7 linked regions of the Homo sapiens genome follow. The protein of the gene in region 4 purifies or fractionates together with the protein of the main gene of each other region. This does not show direct contact. Each region holds a gene or a part of one and is shown on either strand. Other genes may lie near its edges. The genes, in order: DNAJC11, MRPL22, ACSF2, PPTC7, AIFM1, ASF1A and MAOB.

Region 1 (3,500 bases), on a different chromosome or scaffold from region 4:
TGTACCAGGCATATGCTGTAACAGTGGTAATAATGCAGCAATGTTCTCAATTGTCTTCTTTTTAAGAAATGTGTGACTCCTTTAAAAAATATATGCTATTTTATTTTTTCATCTGTTGTCTTACATCCTTTCTTAAACAAAGGTGTAAGTAAGTAAAATTAAAATGAAAGGTTAATAAAAAGCAGACAATAAAATTCTACAGCCAAGCAAAGCATGTTGCTCTCATGTCCCGTTTTCCATTGTTTTATTACTAAATTCACAGCAAATACAAAAGTTTTCCATTGAATTCTCTTTAAGAAAGAAAATAAAAGAGGTGTTTTGGTAGATAATGCAAAATTAGAGCATTAACATTTCAAGAAGCAATTGTTTGAAATGCCCAAAGCAGAAAATAACTGGCTTATAGATCATTAAAGAAACACATTGTGAAATGTAACCTCACGTTTGCCAATCACATTATGAGATGACATTGGAAGTGGTGGGGCATCCTCAACAGCCCCCTCCCTGCACACAGGCAGCTTCTCTAAACTCCACTTCCCGGGCACCCTCTTGGGCCCACCCCTGCCCCCAGCTCTGCCTCCTCTCTGCTTGGCTCACAACTATCCTATCTTTACCCCAAACACCCAAAAAATGTTATCCTTGAGCCTGCACCCTACTCCCATACTTAGCCCCAACTTCCAGGAAAGCTCCCTATCCCCATGTCAACTTTCCAGGAAGCACAAGTTCAGAGAGATCACTGTCTTTTAAAAAGAACAAACTCAGTGTTTTGAACAGAAAGTAAAAAATGCTTCAGGAATTTTTTTTTTTTTTTTTTGAGATGGAGTTTTGCTCTTGTTGCCCAAGATGGAGTGCAATGGCACGATCTTGGCTCACTGCAGCCTCTGCCTCCCGGGTTCAAGTGAATCTCCTGCCTCAGCCTCCCATGTAGCTGAGATTACAGGCATTTGCCACCACGCCTGGCTAATTTTTGTATTTTTAGTAGAGATGGGGTTTCTCCATGTTGGTCACGCTGGTCTCAAACTCCCGACTTCAGGTGATCTGCCCGCCTCAGCCTCCCAAAGTGCTGGGATTACAGGCATGAGCCACTGCGCCCAGCCTCTTTTTTTTTCTTTGACAGAGTCTTGCTCTGTTGCCCAGGCTGGAGTCCAGTGGCACAATCTTGGCTCACTGCAACCTCCGCCTCCTGGGTTTGAGCAATTCTCCTGTCTCAACCTCCCAAGTAGCTGGGATTACAGGCGAGCATCACCACACCCGGCTAATTTTTTTTTTTCGTATTTTTAGTACAGACAGGGTTTCGCCATGTTAATAAGGCTGGTCTCAAACTCCTGACCTCAGGTGATCTGCCCGCCTCCGCCTCCCAAAGCGTTGGGACTGTAAGGCGTGAGCCACCACACCCAACCTCAGGAATTTCATAAACTAATGCTTAGCATACATTCTAGCACTATGATTTTTAGTAATATTACAAGTGGATAGCAAAGTTCATCCTTAGCCAGGATGAAGCATACCAAGTATGTCTTTCACATTTTTAAATTTATTTATGTACATGTATGTCTTTCACATTTTTATTTATTGTTATATTATCGTTTAGATGGATTCTTGCTCTGTCGCTCAGGCTGGAGTGCAGTGGTGGTGCGATCTTGCTTCACTGCAAACTCCATCTCCCGGGTTCAACCAATTCTCTTGCCTCAGCCTCCCGAGTAGCTGGGATTACAGACGCCCACCACCACACCCAGCTAGTTTTTGTATTTTTAGTAGAGACAGGGTTTCACCATGTTGGCCAGGCTGATCTCGAACTCCTGACCTCGTGATTCACCCGCCTCAGCCTCCCAAAGTGCTGGGATTACAGGCATGAGCCACCACGCCCAGCCTTTTATTTATTATTATTTTTATAGACGGAGTCTCGCTTTTTATAGACAAAGTCTCGCTCTGTCGCCCAGCCTAGAGTGTGGTGGTGTGACTGCAGCTCACTGCAGCCCCAAACTTCTAGGTTCAAGCAATCCTCCTGTAACCAAGTACCCCCATTTTTTTTTTTTTTTTTTTTTTGGAGACAGAGTCTCGCTCTGTTGCCCAGGCTGGAGCACAGTGGTGCGATCTCTGCTCACGGCAACCTCCACCTCCCAGCAGAGATTCTCCTGCTTCAGCCTTATGAGTAGCTGGGATTACAGGCGCCCGCCATCAAGTCTGGCTAAGTTTTGTATTTTTAGTAGAGATGGGGTTTCACCATGCTGGCCAGGTGGGTCTTGAACTCCTGACCTCAAGTGATCCGCTGGCCTCAGCCTCCCAAAGTGCTGGGATTCACAGGCATGAGCTACCATGCCCAGCCCCATTTTTTCTAAGAGATAGTTTAATTATTTTCTCCTCTCCCCCTTTCCCCGGTACCCTGCTTCCTACTTAGCCCTTTAGAAATGCAAATATAACCTTTCCCCTCCCCCTCACCAGACATCTTCTATGGGGCAAGTTCAGCTAACTACGTGCTCCAAGACGGATCTCTTGACAGTGGATTTGCAGACCAAATCATGTCCCCATGGCCACTTTTACTTCTTTCTGCCCAGGAAGATGCCAACTCAATTGCCAGTTAGATAAAGTACCCAGATAGCAGGGGGACCCCTGCCCTTGCTCATTTCCTCCTATACCTTATAAAAGTGCCTGCTTTCTGCTCTAAAAGTGAAGCGGTACAGCAGGACATCGTGCCCCTTCCCCAAGCTGACTTCAGAGTAAATTCACTGGCTTTGTATGCGCCTCACTCTTGTTAACTGGACTCTGCATGCGGTAAACAACTGACCTGCTTTTCGGCTGCACCTCCACCTTAGGCTGGACTACAGGTTACAGCTCATGCCACCATGCCCAGCTAATTAAAAAAAATTTTTTTTGGCTGGGCGCGGTGGCTCACACCTATAATCGCAGCACTTTGGGAGGCTGAGGCGGGCGGATCACAAGGTCAGGAGATCGAGACCATCCTGGCTAACACGGTGAAACCCCGTCTCTACTAAAAATACAAAAAAAAAAAAAAAATTATCCAGGCATGGTGGTGGGGGCCTGTAGCCCCAGCTACTCAGGAGGCTGAGGCAGGAGAATGGCGTGAACCCGGGAGGCGGAGCTTGCAATAAGCCGAGATCGCACCACTGCACTCCAGCCTGGGCAACAAAGCGAGACTCCGAATCAAAAAAAAAAAAAAAAAAAAAATCAGCTGGGCGTGGTGGCAGGTGCCTGTAGTCCCGGCTACTCGGGAGGCTGAGGCAGGAGAATGGCGTGAACCCAGATGGCAGAGCTTGCAATGAGCCGAGATTGTGCCACTGCGCTCCAGCCTGGGTGACAGAGCGAGACTCTCTCAAAAAAAAAAAAAAAAAAATTTTTTTTTTTAATTAAAGATGGAGTCTTGCTACGTTATGCCAACCCAGGCTGGTCTCAAACTCCTGGACTTAAGTTATCCTCCTGCCTTAGCCTCCTAAGGTGCTGGAATTACAGGTGTGAGCCACCCCCCAATCCTTATGTCTTTTTTTAAA
Region 2 (3,500 bases), on a different chromosome or scaffold from region 4:
TCTAGTACATCTTCTCTGTCAATTAGAGTGAATGGTTGTATAATTTTTTTAACACAGAATAATAAATCATTACTAATCACTTAAGAGTAAGAGCACTACCACAATTAAGAGATTAGTTCTACCCACGAACTTACTGCTGGTCTCCGAGGTTCTCCAGGCAGTTGTGGAGGATAAACAATTTTATTCTTCTTCTCCCATTTTCGAGAAATGTCAAGAGAAGCACTTGTGTGGATATATGATTGAGGTAAAACACTGTGAAATGAAAGAAGCCTATAAAACAACAGACACTTAGGGGACCTTTCTGTAGAGTTTACATATCTTTTGAACCACTTCAGCTCCATTTTGATGAAAACAATTTAAGGATCACAACTGGAAATATTCTAGAGGTATTCATTAATAGAGACTACTTTTAAACACAACAAAGAGACAGTTTATTAGAGGCTAACAGGAGAGAAAGTAAACGCACATAAGTCAAACCGTTAATAGATATTAACCCAAGATTTCTTGCCCTGACTGGCCAATAACACTGTCTTCTATAAGTCACCCACTCCTAAGAAAGATTTAGAGAAGACATAATGAGCTCTCTGATCTGACCTGTAAGATTGCCCAACTTTGTTGAGTAACTAAGACAAAAACACAAAACAATTAGAAGACAATATAAAACCACATAACTAAAATATGGGAAACAGCAGAGGATTTCAGAGGTGACTTCAGGTGAATCTTGAACTTCCTAATTGATATGGCTCGGCTCTGTGTCCCACCCAAATCTCATCTTCAATTGTAATCCATACATGTTGAGGGAGGGACCTGGTGGGAGGTGATTAGATCGCTGGGCAGTTTCCCCCATGCTGTTCTCGTGATAGTGAGGGAGTTCTCATGAGATCTGATGGTTTAAAAGTGGCAGTTTCCCTGCACTGTCTCTCTCTCCTGCTGCCTTGTGAAAAAGTTGCCTGCTTCCCCTTCACCTTCCCCTATGATTCTAAGTCTCCTGAGGCATCCCCAGCCACGCAGAACTGTGAGTCAATCAAACCTTGTTGGTTTATGAGTTACCCAGTCTCAGGTAGTATCTTTATAGCAGTGTGAAATGGACTAATACACTAATTATCAGAGGAATGGGGCAACGACATATATCATCTATGCAGAGGTACAGAGTTGAGAAATAAGGGGAGGTCTGACTGAGTCAGAGAATTTGTTAAGTATTGGAAAGGTCATTGAGGCTAGAGTGGTTGTCTTTGAATGCTAAACTAATAGGCTGAGACTTGATGATGAAGATCCCAAATTCACTATTCCTTGACCTCTTCCCCCACACTTTAACTGCTTTAATAATATACAACTAGTCATTCTCCCTCTCCCATTTTCCCCAGCATCCGCTACTCCCCTATATCACTAAATAAAATCACTCTTGAATGGTGTTCTAGAGTTTATCTTCAACTTCCCAATGATTTTCATCCTGCCAGAGCTAGTCACCAAATCTTACAGATAAAATAAAGATTCCCCTGAAATCGTTCTCAAATGCTTTACCTCTTCCCCATTCTAATTGCCACCATCCTATATAGCAATAGCCTCTAGATTGATTTCTCTTCCATCAACTTGCCCAATTCCAATCCATCTTTCTCTGCTTGAGTACCAAATGAGCTACCCTTCTATAATTCAGAGCTACTCATGTCATCCTCCAGCTTAAAAACGTCTATTGAAATAAGCAAATGAATAGTTATGTAATATTCTAATGCTATCCTTTTTTTTCAGTGTCACTGACTACTGGGATTCTTGGTATGGAAATAAGCAGAAAAGGTTCAGCCAAAATCCAATAAGTACTAGATCTCTCCACTGAAGAGGTGTAGAAGCAATGAACAATCTAGTAGCAATTAGTGCCCCTACTTCCCAGATTACGGTCTTGAAATACCATTTCCTATTGAAGAGAACCAAAACTTCTGAGAGAAATGGCTGATTGCAGATCTCAAGCAGATAACATACAAAATGAGCCCAGAACATCTTGTCATATCAGAAAGCAAAGAAGCCATCAAAGATTACCAAGGTCATGTCAAAGGCACTCAGGAGCCAACTTGTGGATGCCCAACAAGCCAAAGATGGGACAAGCCAAGCATTAATCAGGACAATAATTGTAGTGGGTTGAAACACATCAAATATGTTTAAAGCCATAAGTTCATAATAAAACCAGGAAAAATACAAATTAATTACCATTAGAAAATGCTAGTGAGCCAACTTGTTATTTTGAAAACTGGTGAATGAAGAGAAAGAATGAAGAAAAAGACAAGACTTATCCTGTCTTTCCTATACAAACTGTACCATTAAGTTTCCAAGTAGTAGATGAGGAAAAATTTGACTTGTATAAAGTTAGTAATGAAGGAATAGCAAATTATTATAGCATCATCTTATAATCCTTAATAAACTAATGGATAAAGGAGGCATTATGTGCCTCCTTATGGAAGAACACACCACCCACCATCCACAAAGTAGTCTTTCCTGCCCAAAATGAAACTGGGGGCTCAAGCCCCTAGATTCAAAATAGGAAACACAGAGAAAAGACAACATGTTACGTAATATCATGGGGATGCACTCGGTAAAATCCAAGGTATAGAAAACGCTACAAAACAACCAATTGTCTCCAACAAATAAATTACAAGAAAAAAAAGAGAGGGTTGAATAAAAAACCTACAGAGTAAGAGATTTAACAGAAATATCAATTAGTTTCAATGTGTGAACTATTATAAAGTATGACAGTTACGAAGCCATTGGAAGTTTAAATATCAAATGGATATTTAATGCTTTTTAATGAGATAATAGTAAAATATTTATGAAAATGATACAGTGGGGGGAGTGTTTCAAAATATGATGAGGGAGAGTACAGGTTATAAATAACATTGGCCATAAGTAGTAAGTGTTGAAGTTGGGTGACGGATACATGGAGGTTCATCAAACTGTCTACTTTTGTATATGTCTGGGCATATCCAAATAAAAAGTTAACACAGCAAACTTTGGTATTTCCCTACTGCCCACAATACGAAGTCCAGACTCTTTAGCGAGACATAGAAGGCCTTTCATAATCTAGACCCAATCTGCCCTTATAGCCTAGCCACATAGATGTTCATTGTTCCCTGAACAAGCCTTTATTCAAATTGTTTTCTCGTCTTATTATCTCCTGAATGAAATGCTTATCCTGTTTTAAGTTCTAGCTCAAATGTCACCTCAATGTGAAACATCACCTAATCCCTTATCTGATCATGATTCTCGCGTTGTCTTAATACTTTGTTCTTGCCAGCCATACAGCAATGACTTAGACCACTGTACTATCGTAAGTGGCTATAATAGAATGAGTTATTGTACTAAGTGTACAGATGTTGAGCATTTAAAGGGCAAGTCCGACTTTCTTTGTATTCTAGCACCAAGAACAATGTCTGGTACGTGGATACTGCGTAAACATTTAACTCAGACTTATATACTCAAAGTGGTTGTATATTGGCATATTCTCATACAAATAT
Region 3 (3,500 bases), on a different chromosome or scaffold from region 4:
GCGGAGGTTGCAGTGAGCCGAGATCGCGCCACTGCACTCCAGCCTGGGCAACAGAGCGAGACTCCGTCTCGAAAAATAAAAAATAAAAAAAATAAAAAATAACAACAACAACAACAACAAAAATGAACTCTGACTAAGTCTCACATTCTATATAAGCAAAAATAAAATGAATCAGACTTAAGTGTAAAAAAAAATTATAAAATCTTCTGGATCTAGAGCTAGGCAAAAAGTTATTAGGCTTGACACCAAAAGCAAGATCCATTAAAAACAAACAAACAACAAAAAAAAACACTCACTGAGCGCTGGGTGCAGTGGCATGCACCTGTAATCCTAGCTACTTGGGAGGCTGAGGCAGGAGAATTGCTTGAACCGAGGAGTTGGAGACCAGCCTGGGCAACATAATGAGATCCCATCTAAAAAAAAAAACTCACTAAACTAGACTTTATAAACTAGACTTAATAAATTAGACTTTATAAAAAAATTTTTTTAAATTGCTATATGGGCTGGGCATAGTGGCTCACGTCTGTAAAGTAATCTTAGCACTTTGGGAGGCTGAGGTGGGAAAATCACTTGAGCACAGGAGTTGGAGACCAGCCTAGGCAACACAGTGCCATCCATCTCTATGAAAAAATTTTTTAAATTAGCTGGGCTTTGTGGCGTGTACCCATAGTCCTACGTACTTGGAAGGCTGAGGCAGGAGGATCACTTGAGCCCAGGAGGTTGAGGCTGCACTGAGCCGTGGTTGCACCACTGTGCTCCAGCCAGGGTGACAGAGTGAGGCCTTTCTCAAAAAATTAAAAAAAAAAAAGGATTAAAAAATTTTGCTCTGCAAAAGACCCTTTTAAGAGGATGAAAAAAAGCTACAAAGTGGGGAAAAACATTTGTAAGCCACATGTCTGACAAAGGAATAATACTAGAATACATACAGAACTCTGAAACATTGAGCTGTTTAATACGTAAAACTCACTTTTGTGAGTTTTTGTCAAGGTTAATGAGCTGCTCCTCCCAAAAGCACTCCTTGGCTTCTGAGCAAAAAAAGCCAGACACAGGCCAGGCACGGTGGCTCACGCCTGTAATCCCAGCACTTTGGGAGGCCGAGACGGGCAAATCACCTGAGGTCGGGAGTTTGAGACCAGCTTGACCAACATGGAGAAATCCCATCTCTACTAAAAATACAAAATAAGTCAGGCGTGGTGGCACATGCGGGTAATCCCAGCTACTTGGGAGGCTGAGGCAGGAGAATCGCATGAACCTGGGAGGCGGAGGTTGTGATGAGCCAAGATTGCGCCATTGCACTCCAGCCTGGGCAACAACAGTGAAACTCTGTCTCAAAATAAAAAAAAGAAAAAAAAAAGATCTGTGCAGTTTACTGTATGTAATTATATCATAAAGCCCCATGATCTTTCTACCACTCGACATAACCACCCTGAGGAGTATGTGACCTCTGAAAAATACCAACTACAAAGAACAAACTACAAACGACTACAAAGACTAGTAAGGACTACAGTAAAAAAAAAAAAAATTATTTTTTTGAGACGGAGTTTTGCTCTTTTGCCCAGGCTGGAATGAGGTGGTGCTATCTCGGATCACTGCAACCTCCACCCACTGGGTTCAAGAGATTCTCCTGCCTCAGCCTCCCGAGTAGCTGGGATTACAGGTGCATGCCACCATGCCCAGCTAATTTTGTATTTTTAGTAGAGATGGGTTTTCGTCATGTTGGCCAGGCTGGTCTTGAACTCCTGACCTCAGGTGATCCACCTGCCTCAGCCTCCCAAAGTGCTGGGATTGCAGGCATGAGCCACCGCACCCAGCCCAGTAAAGATTTTGAACAAGATACTCTATATTGGTGGAAGCTTCCATTCTCAGCATCTTGTTTTGTTATTATTATTATTATTATTTGAGACATGCTCTCACCCTGTCACTGAGGCTAGAGTGTGGTGGCATGATCACGGCTCACTGCAGCCTCGACTTCCTGGGCTCAAGCAATCCTCCTGCCTCAGTCCCCCAGGAAGCTGGAACCACAAGCACATGCCACCACACCCAACTAATTTGTAAAAAGTATTATCTGTAGAGATGGGGTCTCCCTATGTTGCCCAGGCTGGTCTCAAACTTCTGGGCTCAAGCGATCCTCCCACCTCAGCCTCCCAAAGTGCTGAGTTATAGGTGTGAGCCACTGTGCCTGGCCCATTTTCAGCATCTTGAATGGAACCACTGGTGTGTTTGTAAGTATGTACAGAAAATACATAAGAAGTGATAATTTGGGTTTAGAAAACTCTCTCAAGAAGACATAGAAGGGCCAGTGCGGTGGGTCACACCTGTAATCCCAGCACTTTGGGAGGCTGAGTTGGGAGGATCGCTTGAGCCCAGCAGTTTGAGACCACCTGGGGCAACAAAGTGGAAATCTGTCTCTACCAAAACAAAATACAAAAAATTTAGCAAGGCATGGTGGTACACACCTGTAATCCCAGCTATTTGGGAGGCAGAGGTGGGCACATCACCTGAGACTGGGAGGTCAAGGCTACAGTGAGCCGTGATCACGCCACTGCACTCCATCCCAGGTGACAGAGTAGCCTGAAATACTTGGAGTCAGGAGGCATCCATGCTGCAGGTTTTCTTTTGGAATAGCTGGACAGAGACCCCAGGAGAAGAGTGCCTAGGAATCAGGGATGGGGGCTGAGTCAAGACACTTGTCCCTTGATAGGATTACTAAAATACATACAAGGCTAGATATTAGTTTTCTAGGAAGAAAACCTTTGAGGTAGCCAGGTGCACATGGTGGTTTGTGCTTGTAATCCCAGCTACTCAGGAGGCTGAGGAAGTAGGATTGTTTGAGTCCAGTAATCCCAGCATTTTGGAAGGCCAAGGCAGGCGGATCACGAGGTCAGGAGTTTGAGACCAGCCTGGCCAACATAGTGAAACCCCATCTCCACTAAAAATACAAAAAATTAGCTGGGCGTGGTGGCAGGTGTCTGTAATCCCAGCTACTTGGGAGGCTGAGGCAGGAGAATTGCTGAACCCAGGAGGCGGAGGTTACAGTGAGCCCAGATCGCGCCACTGTACTCCAGCCTGGTGATAGTGCGAGACTCCGTCTCAAAAAAAAAAAAAAGAAAAAGAAAAACATATTTAAGTGTGTGTGTGCGTGTGTGTGTATAAAACAAAACTTGATGCTTCTTTTTGCTCAGGGGACTACAGAATTACAGAATGTCAGGTTAGGAAGCTGCATACTCAGGGTTCATAAGAGACCAAGTGAAATTTCACACACGTATGAAGGCTGCATACTTCAAATCACAGCCTTATTGGGTTTAGGGATCAGGCTCAAACTCCAGCCTCTTTAGGAATCACAGAATCTTCTCCCAAAGGTAGAGCACATCTTGTCCAAACAGCCTATTTTACAAACAAACTAAGGTCTGCGGAGGTTCAGTAACTTGCCTAAAGCCACACTAAGTTAGGACTGGTAGGACTGGGATTTGCTTTCCCGTCAACTAACTCCCAAATGGAGG
Region 4 (3,500 bases):
AGTAACATTTATCTAACCACCTTTTCCATCATGTAAGTTTTATTCTAGTTAGAAAAGACATTAAAACATCATGCCCTGGCTAATATGAACAAGACTCCAGTGCTGCCTGCACAAGGTATCAATCAGAAAGTCCTTTGCTTTGGTGGCCTTAAGCCCTAAAGTTTGGATTTTCATTTTTGCTTTTTTTCCCATTTGAAATTCTTAAGGTATTCTTGCTAAAATAGGATGAACTGAAAAGGCAGATTCTGATAGCCTTTGAAGGATACCTCAAAAGCTTCCTTGCTTAGGAACACAGCCTGGCCAACCCCAGTTTGCTCTCCAAGAGCTACCAGTTGCTCTAGTGAAAATACCTTCAGAATTTTATATCAGGAAGAGATTCCTGTCGAGCTGTGAAATCTTGGGCCATACCTTTATCCTTGCTGCTCCAACTTCCTCATCTGCAAAACGGGGATGGGAACACGAGGTCCACTTCAGCTCTAGTTTCAGTATAATGACAGGTCTCTGCTTCAATGTCACCTCCTCAAAAAGGCCCTTCCTGACCAATCTATCTAAAGTAGTAGCAGTCCCTTCTACTCTCTATTCCCTTATCCAGCTTTGTTTTTCTTATTTAGCACCCACATTACATCATAGATTTACTTCCCTGTATTTATCTATTTTCCTCCACTAGGATGTAAGTTCCATACAGGTAGGGACTGTGTAGATTCTGCTCACCACTGTGTCACCACACAGAGCACGGTGCCTGTGACAAGGAAGCACCTCACACTGACTGCACTCCACAGACAAGGCGTGGCGCTAAGGAGTTCCTACACAGGGCTGTAGTTAATCCTCACTGCAACCCTATAAAAGAGGATCTTTAGGATGCCCCATTTTATATGAAGAAAATACTGCTTAAACAGTTTTAAGAAACCCTCAGATCTCAGCAACTTCAATAAATAATAAAAAAAAGAAAGAAACGTACCCAAAGTCATACTGGTTAGAGGTAAAGACTCATGAGAAAAAGACTCATTTTTCCCAGAGTATGTTCACAAAGCCAGGAAAAAATTGAAAGCCTAGTTTCACCTCCTTCCTCTATGGGAGAAACCCATACTATTTGGTTACTGGTGGCAGCTCAGGTCACACTGAGGCTTCCAGTGGCCTGCTGCCTTTGGCTGGCTCTGGCATGACTATTTCCTGTCTTTGCCTGATTCAACACCTGCTGGGTGTTAGAAGAATAAAAGGAGAAACAACCAGGACCCGACACCATTAAAATATAAATAAAGATACAAACAAGAAATGCCCTCCATCTAGACTTTTCCTACTTCTACCAGCCTATGAAAACCTTGGGTAGGAAGCTTCTTTTTCCAAGTGCTCTAATTATTTGAAAGACCAGAGCTATTATTATTTTCCTGAAATTCACAAAATAGTTCTTTCCAAAACTACAAAGAGATAATGCAACTGAATCCATAAAACTCAGCTATCCAGAGAGGGCCACTTTTCCCAAGAGCTAACCTTTGAGTTAATTACCTTTAACTTTTTTAGCTCCTGAAGAATCATATAATCAGGCATGTTGTCAAAGAGTCCATCTGTTGCCGTCAGGATAATGTCTCCTAGCTGGACATCGAAAGACGTGCTATCAGCAGCATCCGGACTGTGGCAAGGACAGGGGAGGGACAAAGTTAAGAAGGCCCTTTACAGATGAGTTGAAAATGTCCTACAGGCACTATTTTACAATGTAATAAGCTTTCTGCAAGAAAAACTGATTTATCATAATGGAGTCAATTTTTAAAAAAAGTCATTCTGAAATTCCCAACTCTGAAAAAAGTTAATCGAAAATTCTAATATAAATGTTTCAAATTTTTAACTGAAACTACCGAGTAAAACCAAGTCTGATGATTAGTCACAAGTGGCTGAGAAGGAGGGAGGAAGGGTCCTCTTCTGAGTCAGATCTAACACACCTCTAAAATCCTAGTGGAAATGAGTCTTTATTCCTAATTCTTTACAGCCGAATTCCATCCCCCCCCGCCTTTTTTTTTTTTTTTTTTGGAGACAAGTCTCGCTCTGTTGTCGAGGCTGGAATGCAGTGGCACGATATAGGCTCACTGCAACCTCTGCCTCTTGGGTTCAAGCGATTCTCCTGTCTCAGCCTCCCAAGTAGCTGGGACTACAGGCATGTAAAATAGTGCCTGTAGGACCACAGTCATGCACCACCACGCCTAATTTGTTTTTACATTTTTAGTAGAGACAGGGTTTTGCCACGTTGGCCAGGCTGGTCTTGAACTCCTGACCTCAGGTGATCCGCCTGCCCCGGCCTCCCAAAGTGCTGGGATTACAGGCATGAGCCACTGTAATCACCAGCCACCCAGCCCACCCCCTCTTATTCACATATTTCACTCATCAGTTTCCTCGAATATTTGAATCTGGGTCCTGGAGTGCCATAGTGAGGGTGGGATGATGAATACCTGTGGAGAACAACATGCCAATCTTTTTTTTTTTTTTGAGACAGAGTCTCGCTCTGTCGCCCAGGCTGGAGTTCAGTGGCGCGATCTCGGCTCACTGCGAGCTCCGCTTCCTGGGTTCACGCCATTCTCCTGGCGCAGCCTCCCGAGTAGCTGGGACTACAGGTGCCCGCAACCATGCCCGGCTAATTTTTTGTATTTTTAGTAGAGACAGGGTTTCACCATGTTGGCCAGGATGGTCTTGATCTCCTGACCTCGTGATCTGCCCGCCTTGGCCTCTCAAAGTGCTGGGATAACAGGCGTGAGCCACTGCGCCCAGCCGCCAATCTTATAAGAATTCATTCACTGCTGGGTGTGGTGGCTCACGCCTGTAATCCCAGCACTTTGGGAGGCCAAGGTGGGTGGATCACCTGAGGTCAGGAGTGCAAGACCAGCCTGACCAACACGGTGAAACCCCGTCTCTACTAAAAATTAAAAAATTAGCCAGGCGTGGTGGCACACGCTTGTGATCCCAGCTATTCAGGAGGCTGAGGCAGGAGAATTGCTTGAACCCGGGAGATGGAGGTTGCAGTGAGCCAGTGAGCCAAGATCGTGCCACTGCCCTCCAGCCTGGCAACAGAGTGAGACTCCATCTCAAAGAAAAAGAAAAAGGAAAAAAATAATTCATTCACTTGCCAGTCGCAGTGGCTCACGCTTGTAATCCCTGCACTTTGGGAGGCCAAGGCGGGCGGATCACCTGAGGTCAGGAGTTTGAGACCAGCCTGGTTAAAACCCGTTTCTACCAAAAATACAAAAAATTAGCTGGGCGTGGTGGCACACGCCTGTAATCCCAGCTACTAGGGAGGCTGAGGCAGGAGAATCACTTGAACCTGGGAGGCAGAGGTTGCAGTGAGCTGAGATTGCACCATTGCACTCCAGCTAGGGCAACGAGAGCTAAACTCCGTCTCAAAAAAAAAAAAAAAAAAAAAGAATACATTCACCGGAAATAGCTACAGTATTTTGGCATAGTAAGGACTCTGTGTCTCCCAAGGGTCCCAAAGTGGTCATCATACGTAGGTATTTATT
Region 5 (3,500 bases), on a different chromosome or scaffold from region 4:
AGGCGCCTGTAACCACGCCTGGCTAATTTTTTGTATTTTTAGTAGAGATGGGGTTTCACCGTGTTAGCCAGGACTGTCTCGATCTCCTGACCTGGTGATCCGCCCACCTTGGCCTCCCAAAGTGCTGGGATTACAGGCGTGAGCCACCACACCCAGCCTAATTAAGGTTTATATAGTGAAAAGCTAAACACTGAGATTAGTTCTGGTGAGGGATCCCTTGGTGACCAAAAAGCTGTCACCTGAGCAACTTAACAGCGATGCTTTTTTTTTTTTTTTTTTGAGATGGAGTTTCACTCTTGTTGCCCAGGCTGGAGTGCAATGGTGTGATCTCTGCTCACCACAACCTCCGCCTCCCAGGTTCAAGCGATTCTCCTGTCTCAGCCTCTGGAGTAGCTGGGATTACAGGCATGCACCACCACACCTGGCTAATTTTGTATTTTTGGTAGAGACAGGGTTTCTCCATGTTGGTCAGGCTGGTCTTGAACTCCCAACCTCAGGTGATCCACCCACCTCGGCCACCCAAAGTGCTGGGATTATAGGTGTGAGTCACTGCACCTGGCCAACAGCAATACTTTCTTTCCTTTCTTTTCCTCTACCCTCTATGCCAGGACTCCTTAGAAATAAAATATTAAGGAAAGTGAGTTATGAAGATGATAAGGGCAATGCAGACTACAGAATTATGGGTGTCTTTGAACTGCTGCTTCCTGTAAAATGCCAAAAACTTCTTTGGGCACATGATGGTTCCCAGCTTGAGAGATCTGTGAGCTCCAGTTGGAATGTTTCATGGCAACTAGTTTTCTTAATGTTCTTTTTCAGATATATGAAATCAGGGCATCTTTTCAGGAGGATGCTTCCTATTCAGAGGTTGCAAAGCACTTATGTAAGCCTTAGGTGACTGCATGGGTGGAAGTGCACAGAGTTCACCATCTGAAGCTTAATCTGGGGCCAGCAGTTCTGATACCTGTTGTATTTGCGTTACAAATGAACTTGAGCACCGAGGCCCTCATGCCCACTGTCCTGTAAGTGGGCGCTCGGCCTGGATTGCAGCTCTGCCCTGTCTGTAGTGAGGGCTGCCTGCTGCTCCTTTACTTCTCTTCCTGTATTCCTAGGATTGACTTTTGCTTCCTGCTGTAACTACTCTGTTTCTTCTTCCCAGCTCGAGCCTTGGGCACAGAAGTGATTCAACTCTTCCCCGAGAAAGGAAATATGGGAAAGATCCTCCCCGAATACCTCAGCAACTGGACCATGGAAAAAGTCAGACGAGGTAGAGAGACTGTTTCTATATGCTGCCACTCTATTTCCTTTGAGTGTGACCTAAGGCAAACTTCGCTTCTATAGGAACCCCCTTGACATAAGCCCTATCACCTGGCCTGTAAAATGTTTCCACCATTCTCCAGTCAGCTAAGTTCATCTAGGTGTTCTGAATCAGATGCCCCAAATTCCTGGAAGTGCTGAAAATGAACCATGGGTGTAGGTTCTTGCAGCTCTCCAAAACTGCCTGTGTACTGATAATTGGTTTTACCGTGGAGGAGACCGCTGGTCAGCTTTCCTACTTCCCATGAAAGTGATAGCCTTGTAGGCTCACTCTCAGGTCTTGTTTGCCTTTACAGAGGGGGTTAAGGTGATGCCCAATGCTATTGTGCAATCCGTTGGAGTCAGCAGTGGCAAGTTACTTATCAAGCTGAAAGACGGCAGGAAGGTAAGGAAGGAAAAGATAGTCTGCCAAGAGGCCTTCCAGTTCTCCACTCCCCTTGCCTCATTTTTACTCCTTCATTTGACACCAGTAGATTAGTTTTCCTGGCAGTTGCCATTAACCTGATATAATTTTCCGAATTAACCATCCCTCCATTAAAACAGAATGATGAGAGCCAGAGTAGGCTCCTGTGAACCACTTTCCCTTAGCCCCATTCTATCTGTCTCACAGAGTTTTGAGTCCTGGCTAGGGTGGCAGATTTCTGTTCGAATGACATGGGGGATGTGCATGGGATGGGGTGGTGGAGGCTTATGAAATAGAACTTAAAATCCATTTATCAGAGGTAAGTTAACCCATGATTTTTTAAAGTCCCAATTCTTAATGGCATGAAGGGCCATTGTTACGCCTGTAGGCATAAATGGAAACTGTGGTAATTGACTGAATTATTTCTTTTTTGCCTCAGGTAGAAACTGACCACATAGTGGCAGCTGTGGGCCTGGAGCCCAATGTTGAGTTGGCCAAGACTGGTGGCCTGGAAATAGACTCAGATTTTGGTGGCTTCCGGGTAAATGCAGAGCTACAAGCACGCTCTAACATCTGGGTGGTAAGTGTGCTACAGCATGACCAGGCATAATTCATTCTCCCTAGCCTGTGAACAAGTCTGCCCGGTGGTGTGCTAAAGCTCATCAACAGCCTAACCAAATAGGGTCAGAGTGTTTGGAGGCTGAGGGTACAGAATAGAAATGTGTGAACTGCTTGATTCAGAAGACCAGGTATGGCCTCATCTGCAAGCTAGTGGCAGATGAAATGAACAGTGTGCATGCCTGCAGGGGTAGAGCTCTTCCGGTTCTACTTATTGGCAGCAGCTACTGGCATAACCCCTGGTGGGCATGCACATAAGCCTTCAGATGGATCTGCTGTTCCCTTTGCTCAAACTTGAATCCGGAGGATGGAGGATGAAGCAATGTTATAACCTGTTCCCTAGAAAGGAAAATTACTCTGTTTTCATTTTCCTTGAGTACTATTTTTAGCTGTTTTTTACAATCTATTATGACATAAACAAGACTATAGTATGTAGGAACCATGAGGTAATTTCCCCATTGCTAGTTACAAGTGTATTGTGTTTGTTTATGGACTCTGCAACTAAGGACGTAGGTACCTTGGAGGAATTTTTTTCCCCCTCCAAACCTTGTTTTTTTTTTTTTTTTTAAAAAAAAAAAGATGTACTGGATCTTTTTAACCTGTTATAAAAGTAATACGTGGGCCAGGAGAAGTGGCTTACACCTGTAATCCCAGCACTTTGGGAGGCTGAGGCAGGTGGATCACTTGAGATCAGGAGTTTGAGACCAGCCTGGCTAACATGGTGAAACCCTGTCTCTCCTAAAAATACAAAAATTAGCCGGGTGTGGTGGCACAGGCCTGTAATCCCAGCTACTTGGGAGGCTGAGTGAGGCAGGAGAATCACTTGAACTAAGGAGGCAGAGGCTGCAGTGAGTGGAGATCATGCCACTGCCCTCCAGCCTGGGCAACAACAGAGCAAGACTCAGTCTCAAAAAAAAAAAAAAAGTAATATGTGGTCAATGTAGAAGACAGACAAGAAGGAGAGAGGAGAGGAAAGTCACCTGCAGCAACCATTAATATTTTGGTGTATTTCCTTCCCTGTGTTTCCTTGCATGTAGGTTTTATTGTTGGTTTGTTTTATTCGTGGCAAGCATACTATATATAATATTCTGCTCTTTTCCACTTAACACCATAAATGTAAGCATTTTCTATGTTGCTTCAGACTTTGTAAACAGTTTAATGACTA
Region 6 (3,500 bases), on a different chromosome or scaffold from region 4:
TTTGAAAAGAATTTTCTTAATAAGTTATTTTGCCTCAAGTCTCAAAGCAGAGTTTGGCCACCGTTTTTCATACTTTCATCAGTAGCCCCAAACGTTCACTTTCCTTTAAGAGCTGCCCTGTAGCTTTGCTTCAGAAAAAGCCTTGAGGAATATTTGGTCTTAAGATAATTTGGTTCTTTCTAATATAGGGCTTATATCAAGGGTTAAGACAGCCTGAGACCCTGGCTGGATGTGCTTGATGGTCACCAAGACTGTACAAGTTTTGATTGACCATCCTGCCATTCTTAAATTTATATATATATATATCTTAATTACAGCTACTGTCAATTGAATACTTATAATATACCAGAATTGAGCATGGTGCTTCATACTTTCCAACTTCAGCTTGTTCTAATTCCAAAGCCTACATACTTTCCACTAGACCACAGGTCTTCCCAAGTAGTGTAATTAGCTAAAAATTCTCTTGATGACTTCCCTCATTCACTCACTCTTTCACCACAAATGTAAATACTTTCAGGCTGGGTAAATCATTTAATCATGATTACTGTGATTAAATAAAAGTTAACTTTAAAATAAATGAACAAATTTCTTCACCTGAGAACTTATGTAAAACATCTGACCTTACCCTTCCTCCCTCAAATACAGGGGGCAGAGGAATTAAATGAAAGCTGGGTTAAAAAAAAAAACAACAAAAAAACTGATGCCAATGTATAAAAGGGTATTGAGCATGTAAAACTCAGCAACTGTAGCAAGCATCCCATAAACATAAAAATCAATGTACAAGTGTTCCCTGAGTTGCAGCCTGTTCTTGTTAAGGCTAGATTCTCTCTCCATCTCCTCTGCTCTCACTTCCCCTGCAAATAAATTCCCTTATTCCACTGCTAATTTCAGAGCTAGAAAGAATTTATCTTCCCAGTTAGGTTTTCAGAAGAAGCCCGGGGTTTGTAGTTACAGAGGCATAGCTTGGATTCTGATTCTTTGATGTACAAATTATGAATTTGTGTAGATTACTTAACCTCTCAGAGTCTCAAGTTATTTGCATAATGGGGATAATTTGATCTACATGATGAAGCTGTTGAGGTTTAAACAATAGGTATGAAGTAGAACTAATGCCCAGTATATAGTAGGTATTTTCTAAAATAGGTTTATAAATTATGGCTATGTTCCTATGCCAGTCCACAAATGCGAATTTATACCACTTAGGATCAAGGGCATTATATGTAGTGATACAATTATATATGAAATTAAAATTCATGAAAACCTTTATGTAATAATTTTTTTTTTTTTTTTTTGGAGACAATCTCGTTCCATTGCCCAGGCTGGAGTGCAGTGGCGCGATCTCGGCTCACTGCAACCTCCGCCTCCAGGGTTCAGGCGATTCTTGTGCCTCAGCCTCCCGAGTAGCTGGGACCACAGGCATGTGCCACCCCTAATTTTTGTACTTTTAGTAGAGATGGGGTTTCACCATGTTTGCCAGGCTGGTCTCGAACTCCTGACCTCAAGCCATCCAGCCACCTTAGCCTCCCACAATGCTGGGATTACAGGCGTGAGCCACTGCGCCCAGCCACTCTATGTGATAATTCTTAGTCTTATCCTCACTTGGCTAGTTTAGTACCTTTCACATCACTTTCTTAAAACAGTTTCTTCACTTGGCTTTTGGGTCACCTACCTCATTTGCCACTTGTTTTGTAACTTAATTTGTCCTCTTATCTTTGGAGGGCTCAAATCTCACTCCCTAGAGCAAGCCCATGTATTTTTATGGCTTTACATATCATTGACAGGTTCCAAATTTTTATCCTGCCTATTCAGTATCTCTGCTTAGAAGCAGACATCTCAAATATGTCTAAAATGAACTCCTGATTGCTCCCCTACCCCACATCACCTCCCTGCAAAAGTGGCTCCTGCTGCTTTCATCTTCAGGATTTTATCCAGAATATAACTGTTGCACAGCCCCATGGCCACACGAGGTCCATGCCACCATAATTTCTTGCCTCAATTATTGAAATATTGTTTCTTCCCTTGTCCTCTTACACTCTATATTGAACACAGCAATCAAAGCATTCCTTTTAAAATGAAAGTTGGCTCCTGTTACTGCTCTGCTCAAAACCCTTCGATGGCTTCCCATGCCACGCAGTGTGAAAGCCAGAGTCCTTATGATGGCCTTCAAAACCGCATGATCTGGCTGTTCCCCTCATCCTCAATCATAGGGTTTGGTGCTTTCCTCCTTCCTTTCATTCTGCTCCAGCCCTAGCCTCCTTGCTTTTTCTTGCCAAGTGTGCCCTACCCCTGGGCCTTTGTATTTGCTGTTCCCTCTGGCGAGATACTTATATTGCCTACTTCCTCTCTATCTCCATCAACAGATGATCTCAGGAGATGTCAGATGCAGCACCCTGCATCTGGAAGTGTGCTGGAAGCTGGAAATAGAAATGGTTTAGTTCTAGGACAGAGCCATGACATAATAGGTCCTCAGAAAATGATTGCTGACTTAATAAGAGAAAATAAAAAAGGAGCTTTCAGTTGATTGTAGTTTACAATACAATATAAATAAGCAGTACGTTACTATTTCTATTATCAATTTAGGGAACAAAAATATCTACAGTTACACAAAAATGGCCACACATGGTGGCACTAACTAGATTGTCATGAGTGACCCAGAAACTCACCCTTTGGGAGTGCTTGTGTAACAGTGTGTTGAATGCAAGAGGCAGGCCACACAGTGCAAAATACCCAAAGAAGATGAAGAGGTCTCTCAGAGATGGTTTGTATTACAAAGTTATCTTCTTCCTCAGCTAAACAGGAGACTCCTCCAAAGAGTTCTACTCATCTCTGGGTTCACTTCACAGAACACATTGTAAAACATGCTCAGTAAAATCCGCTATATTGAATTACATATAACGCCTTGAATTGCACCTGAATGTCTTTTCCTCCTGCCTATCTCCACTGTGTATACTCTATTGTATCACGTGGTGTAAAGATCTTGGTTTCCTCTGCCCAATTTAAAGAATGTATGACACAGGGGGGTGCCGTAAGGGAAAAACCCTACCATTGTTCGTTGACAGTTGATGAGCTGAAGCCACTTACTTCTGAGCCATGAGGGAGGTTTTACTAATAATTTTTCTACTTTGGAGCTCTGTGATTATTTGGATCTCTGCAGCGTAGTATAGGGCTGCCCTTCCAAAGTGTGTTGAGAAGGGCCTTAAAAGATGATATACAAAAAAAGGGGGATTCCATAGCCAAATAAATTTGGGAAGTGCTGGATTAATGTTACTGGTGTTCTTTACTGAAGGATATCTCAGAAAACTTACTGTGCCAGCATGCTTTATGAATCCTCAAGACAAGGTTTACAGCATTTCCCAAGTGTTTGGCTATGTTATCTTGTTTGTGAGGCACTGTCCAGGAACTAGTGTTTCACAAAAGAGTATTTTGAGAAACTCTGATCAAAGTGTGAACTCTGGTAGGAACTTTATAAGGAGCATTTCACTGCCTTTCTGGATTGCTAT
Region 7 (3,500 bases), on a different chromosome or scaffold from region 4:
CATAAGGTAAATTGGTAAAACTTTCTTGGGCGACAATTTTGCTATAATTATTAAATGCCTTAAAAGAATTTCTAACATTTATCTCTGGAAATTTCCTAAAGAAACAATCAGAATTATGTACAACAATTTAGGTTCATAACAGCTTTGTTGAAAATAGCAGAAAGTTTGAAAAAAACACAAATGTTCAGCAATAGGAGATTGATTCAACAAGTTGTGATACAATCATATGAACTAATGTTATAAAATCATGAAAAAACATTTAAGACATAGGTAAACATTCATAACATGTTGGTATTTATTTTTAAAGGGGATACAAATAAGTACAGTAAATACAACATAAAGTTTGCATAAAGAAAATATAGGTGGCAATAGTAACAGTGGTAAATATTTTATGGAGTTCAATTATGGATGATTTTCATTTTCTTTTTGCCATTTTCTATAATTTACAGATTTTCACAACAAATGTTTATTATTTCTGCATTCATGCTATTAAAAAAGATACTCACACCTCTCTAAAAAATGTCCTCAAACTGTAGATCATCAAGATGGAATGTGATTGCATCTTTCATTTCTATCAGTGGCCTTTCTTCTTACCAAATGTTTGAAGTAATTTTGGTTATTAACTAAATTGGTTATTAATTCTTAACTTTATCCTTCTGAAAAAAGATGCTTTGCTGGATAACAAAAGCTCTTCCAATGAGCTTGTTTCTTTAATGTAGAAAACTGGAAAATAACCCAAAGAAATGAGATATAACTAAAGACATAATTATCAATACACAATTTAATACACACACACCACTGGGATCACAGCAATAAAAAGTAGCCCAACTTCAAAATATGAAGTAAGGATTCCAAATTCAATTAAAAGAATCATTAAAAATGTTGGAGAGGTTAAGCAAAAGGGACGATTATTTAGGCTAGAAGGAGAGCAAATAAAACTAAGTATCTAGTAGGACATTTTCATCATTGTGTAATTCTGATAAATGTTATTGAGGAGGAGAGTAGAATTAAAAATGGCCTAGCTAAGAGATGCATAACATAAGATCAAGAGCTCAAATTTCAGATATGAAGTGGAAATTAGATAGTATATGACATTTAAGATGCCATTAAATGGAGACTATGGTAAGATGACTAACATTTGAAAGGTCAGACCTACCTGAAGATGTTTTCTGATGGTGCCCCTCTCTCACAAAACAAAAGGTTTAAATGACATTTTTGTTCGTTTTTGTTTGCTTGTTTGTTTTTGAGATGGAGTCTGTCTCTGTCGCCAGGCTGGAGTGCAGTAGTGCCATCTCGGCTCACTGCAACCTCCGCCTCCCTGGTTCAAGCGATTCTCCTGCCTCAGCCTCCCGAGTAGCTGGGACTACAGGCGCCCACCACCACGCCCGGCTAATTTTTGTATTTTTAGTAGAGACAGGGTTTCTTCATGTTGGCCAGGATGGGCTCGGTCTCCTGACCTCGCGATCCGCCCGCCTCGGCTTCCCAAAGTGCTGGGATTACAGGTGTGAGCCACTGCACCCGGCCGACAGTTTTTATATAACAAATAAGATGAACTATTCATTTTGTGTTTGAGATTGCCAGAGATACACGTTTTATCATTTAGTAAACTGGGTCACAGCCCTTGGGAAGAAAATCTCTGTTTTTAGTTTTTTAAAGAAGAAAAAATGTAAATACAGTCAAGTCCTTCAATCCCAATGATAAAACTTTGGAGGGAAGTTTGCAAAAATAAAATATAGGTGGCAATAGTAACAGTGGTAAATGTTTTATGGAGTGCCTACAACTTCATTAAATTACAACTAATTATTGTTTGTGATACTTCTTTTCTGGATAGGCTGCCAGCAAGACAGTGAAGAAAGCCAAGTGCAACTTTGGACACCTCCTTCTACTCATTCTTCCCTTCTTTCTATCCCCATTTCTCTTGAAACCTCCCTTGGGCATTCAGAATAACCCAATACATTATAATCAGCTGATCACCTCTCAATCCTTTCCTGAATTTCTATCCATGTTTTGGCTTCCCTGGTTATCAGGCACACGACCATCCACCTTATCTTTATAGTATAAACTGTCAATGGCTCCCTATTTCTTACCACAGGAAAACCTAACTTTTCACTTTGTTTTTCAATTGCTCGTTTTTGGATCCTGCCCCCCTCCTACTAACTTTCCTTCCCATGTCTCCCCTTCCTTTTATTCTAGACAAGCTGGACTTTCTACTGTCCTGTAAATATAAAGATCACCTGCTAACTGAAGTCTCTGGCCCTATGATTTAAATGATTCTTCTCATCTTTAAAGCCTCTCTCTTCTCTACCCTCCCAAACCTGGACTGTTCTTCAGAATCTGTTAAATTCTACTCCCTTAATGAGACCTTCTCCAACTCCTGGGGTCTTTAATGATTCTTCTAACTTAGTCCTTGGGTCCCACAGTTCAGAATTCAATTATACATTAGTTTAATTGTTCCTTATTGCATGTATGTGCTAGTCTTGTGTCTCCATCTGCATTTTAAGTTTCCTGAGGCTGGGAACTTAGTCTTACTCTTTTTCTATACCTTCCTTCAGTAAATAAATGCATGCTGACTTAGGAAACATTGCTAACAGGGACTTGGCTTTCTGTATCTTTATTTACTGAGTTAACAGAGGAGGCCAAAGATGGATCCATTTTGTGAGCATGAAAACAGAAAGTAGAAATAGTGCATTCAAAGTATTAGTGATTCTAACCTCTCACCCAGCACCATTTGATCAGGTTGTCCTTCTGTTTGCATTTTCTCCTAAGGCTGAGGGCTCATCCTCCAGGACAATAATTTTATTCAAAAGAAGGGGCTGTGAGGTCTGGAGCCAGCCCTTTGCACTCTCTAAATGTGCTTTTTCTTGGATGCAAAACCAGGCGATCTTAACTAGTAGGTAAAACTCTAAAGATGCTTCCGTCTTCAGTCACCAATGATTCTATTAAACCAAAGTATTTTTTAGCTTGGTCTTCTAAGTTTGTTCCTTGAATATTCAAAATCAGGAAGGAATTTTATACCATTATGGCCTCCTCTTAGGGGAAATAACAACTTTTATGCAGACACACTACTAATAAGTTAAGCCCAGCGAATGAGATTCTTGCAAAAGCACAATGGTACACATTTAACCTGAGCAAATTTCCAAAGCATTCTCTTGTGGGGCTGAAAACACTCGTTCTTCAGACACATATTACACCTGAACGTGGCCCCTCAATTTGGCTCACTTTTGCACCCTTCAAGGGTATTCGATCTTGCATGATTCCAGGGTGCCCTCAATTGAGTACTGCCCAGTGACTTGTACAAATAACAAAGTTAACATTTATTGAGAATTCTAGGAGTTAGCCCAGGAACACTCACCCGCTTTTCAAGTACCAAGAAAAATTGAAGAAACTTGGCTGAAGAAGTACCAAGACAAATTGAAGAGACAAGCTCTTTGAAAGAGCTTTTGATATCTAGCAGGGCATCTTTTGCAGAAGGATAAATTGAAGAATTAATAACCACATTT

The links.
Region 1: the proteins of PPTC7 (region 4) and DNAJC11 purify together in Homo sapiens (affinity purification with mass spectrometry; one large-scale study listed by BioGRID and IntAct). This does not show direct contact.
Region 2: the proteins of PPTC7 (region 4) and MRPL22 purify together in Homo sapiens (affinity purification with mass spectrometry, with the first as the bait; one large-scale study listed by BioGRID). This does not show direct contact.
Region 3: the proteins of PPTC7 (region 4) and ACSF2 purify together in Homo sapiens (affinity purification with mass spectrometry; one large-scale study listed by BioGRID and IntAct). This does not show direct contact.
Region 5: the proteins of PPTC7 (region 4) and AIFM1 purify together in Homo sapiens (affinity purification with mass spectrometry; one large-scale study listed by BioGRID and IntAct). This does not show direct contact.
Region 6: the proteins of PPTC7 (region 4) and ASF1A purify together in Homo sapiens (affinity purification with mass spectrometry; 2 studies listed by BioGRID and IntAct, with this or other methods). This does not show direct contact.
Region 7: the proteins of PPTC7 (region 4) and MAOB purify together in Homo sapiens (affinity purification with mass spectrometry; one large-scale study listed by BioGRID and IntAct). This does not show direct contact.

The regions. Positions count from the first base shown.
Region 1 is NC_000001.11:6,691,817-6,695,316, forward strand, and holds part of DNAJC11 (dnaJ homolog subfamily C member 11), read right to left. Parts: intron 1-3,500.
Region 2 is NC_000005.10:154,947,573-154,951,072, reverse strand, and holds part of MRPL22 (large ribosomal subunit protein uL22m), read right to left. Parts: intron 253-3,500; coding exon 135-252; intron 1-134.
Region 3 is NC_000017.11:50,432,718-50,436,217, reverse strand, and holds part of ACSF2 (medium-chain acyl-CoA ligase ACSF2, mitochondrial isoform 2 precursor), read right to left. Parts: intron 1-3,500. UniProt on the Homo sapiens protein: Acyl-CoA synthases catalyze the initial reaction in fatty acid metabolism, by forming a thioester with CoA. Has some preference toward medium-chain substrates. Plays a role in adipocyte differentiation.
Region 4 is NC_000012.12:110,538,319-110,541,818, forward strand, and holds part of PPTC7 (protein phosphatase PTC7 homolog), read right to left. Parts: intron 1,628-3,500; coding exon 1,504-1,627; intron 438-1,503; coding exon of another isoform or gene 411-437; exon of another isoform or gene 409-410; intron 1-408. UniProt on the Homo sapiens protein: Protein phosphatase that plays an essential role in mitochondrial metabolism and biogenesis. Positively regulates biosynthesis of the ubiquinone, coenzyme Q. Dephosphorylates the ubiquinone biosynthesis protein COQ7 which is likely to lead to its activation.
Region 5 is NC_000023.11:130,134,842-130,138,341, reverse strand, and holds part of AIFM1 (apoptosis-inducing factor 1, mitochondrial isoform AIF precursor), read left to right. Parts: intron 1-301; exon of another isoform or gene 302-816; coding exon of another isoform or gene 817-824; exon of another isoform or gene 825-1,156; coding exon 1,157-1,264; intron 1,265-1,610; coding exon 1,611-1,699; intron 1,700-2,156; coding exon 2,157-2,297; intron 2,298-3,500. UniProt on the Homo sapiens protein: Functions both as NADH oxidoreductase and as regulator of apoptosis.
Region 6 is NC_000006.12:118,897,152-118,900,651, forward strand, and holds part of ASF1A (histone chaperone ASF1A), read left to right. Parts: intron 1-3,500. UniProt on the Homo sapiens protein: Histone chaperone that facilitates histone deposition and histone exchange and removal during nucleosome assembly and disassembly.
Region 7 is NC_000023.11:43,872,451-43,875,950, forward strand, and holds part of MAOB (amine oxidase [flavin-containing] B), read right to left. Parts: intron 1-3,500.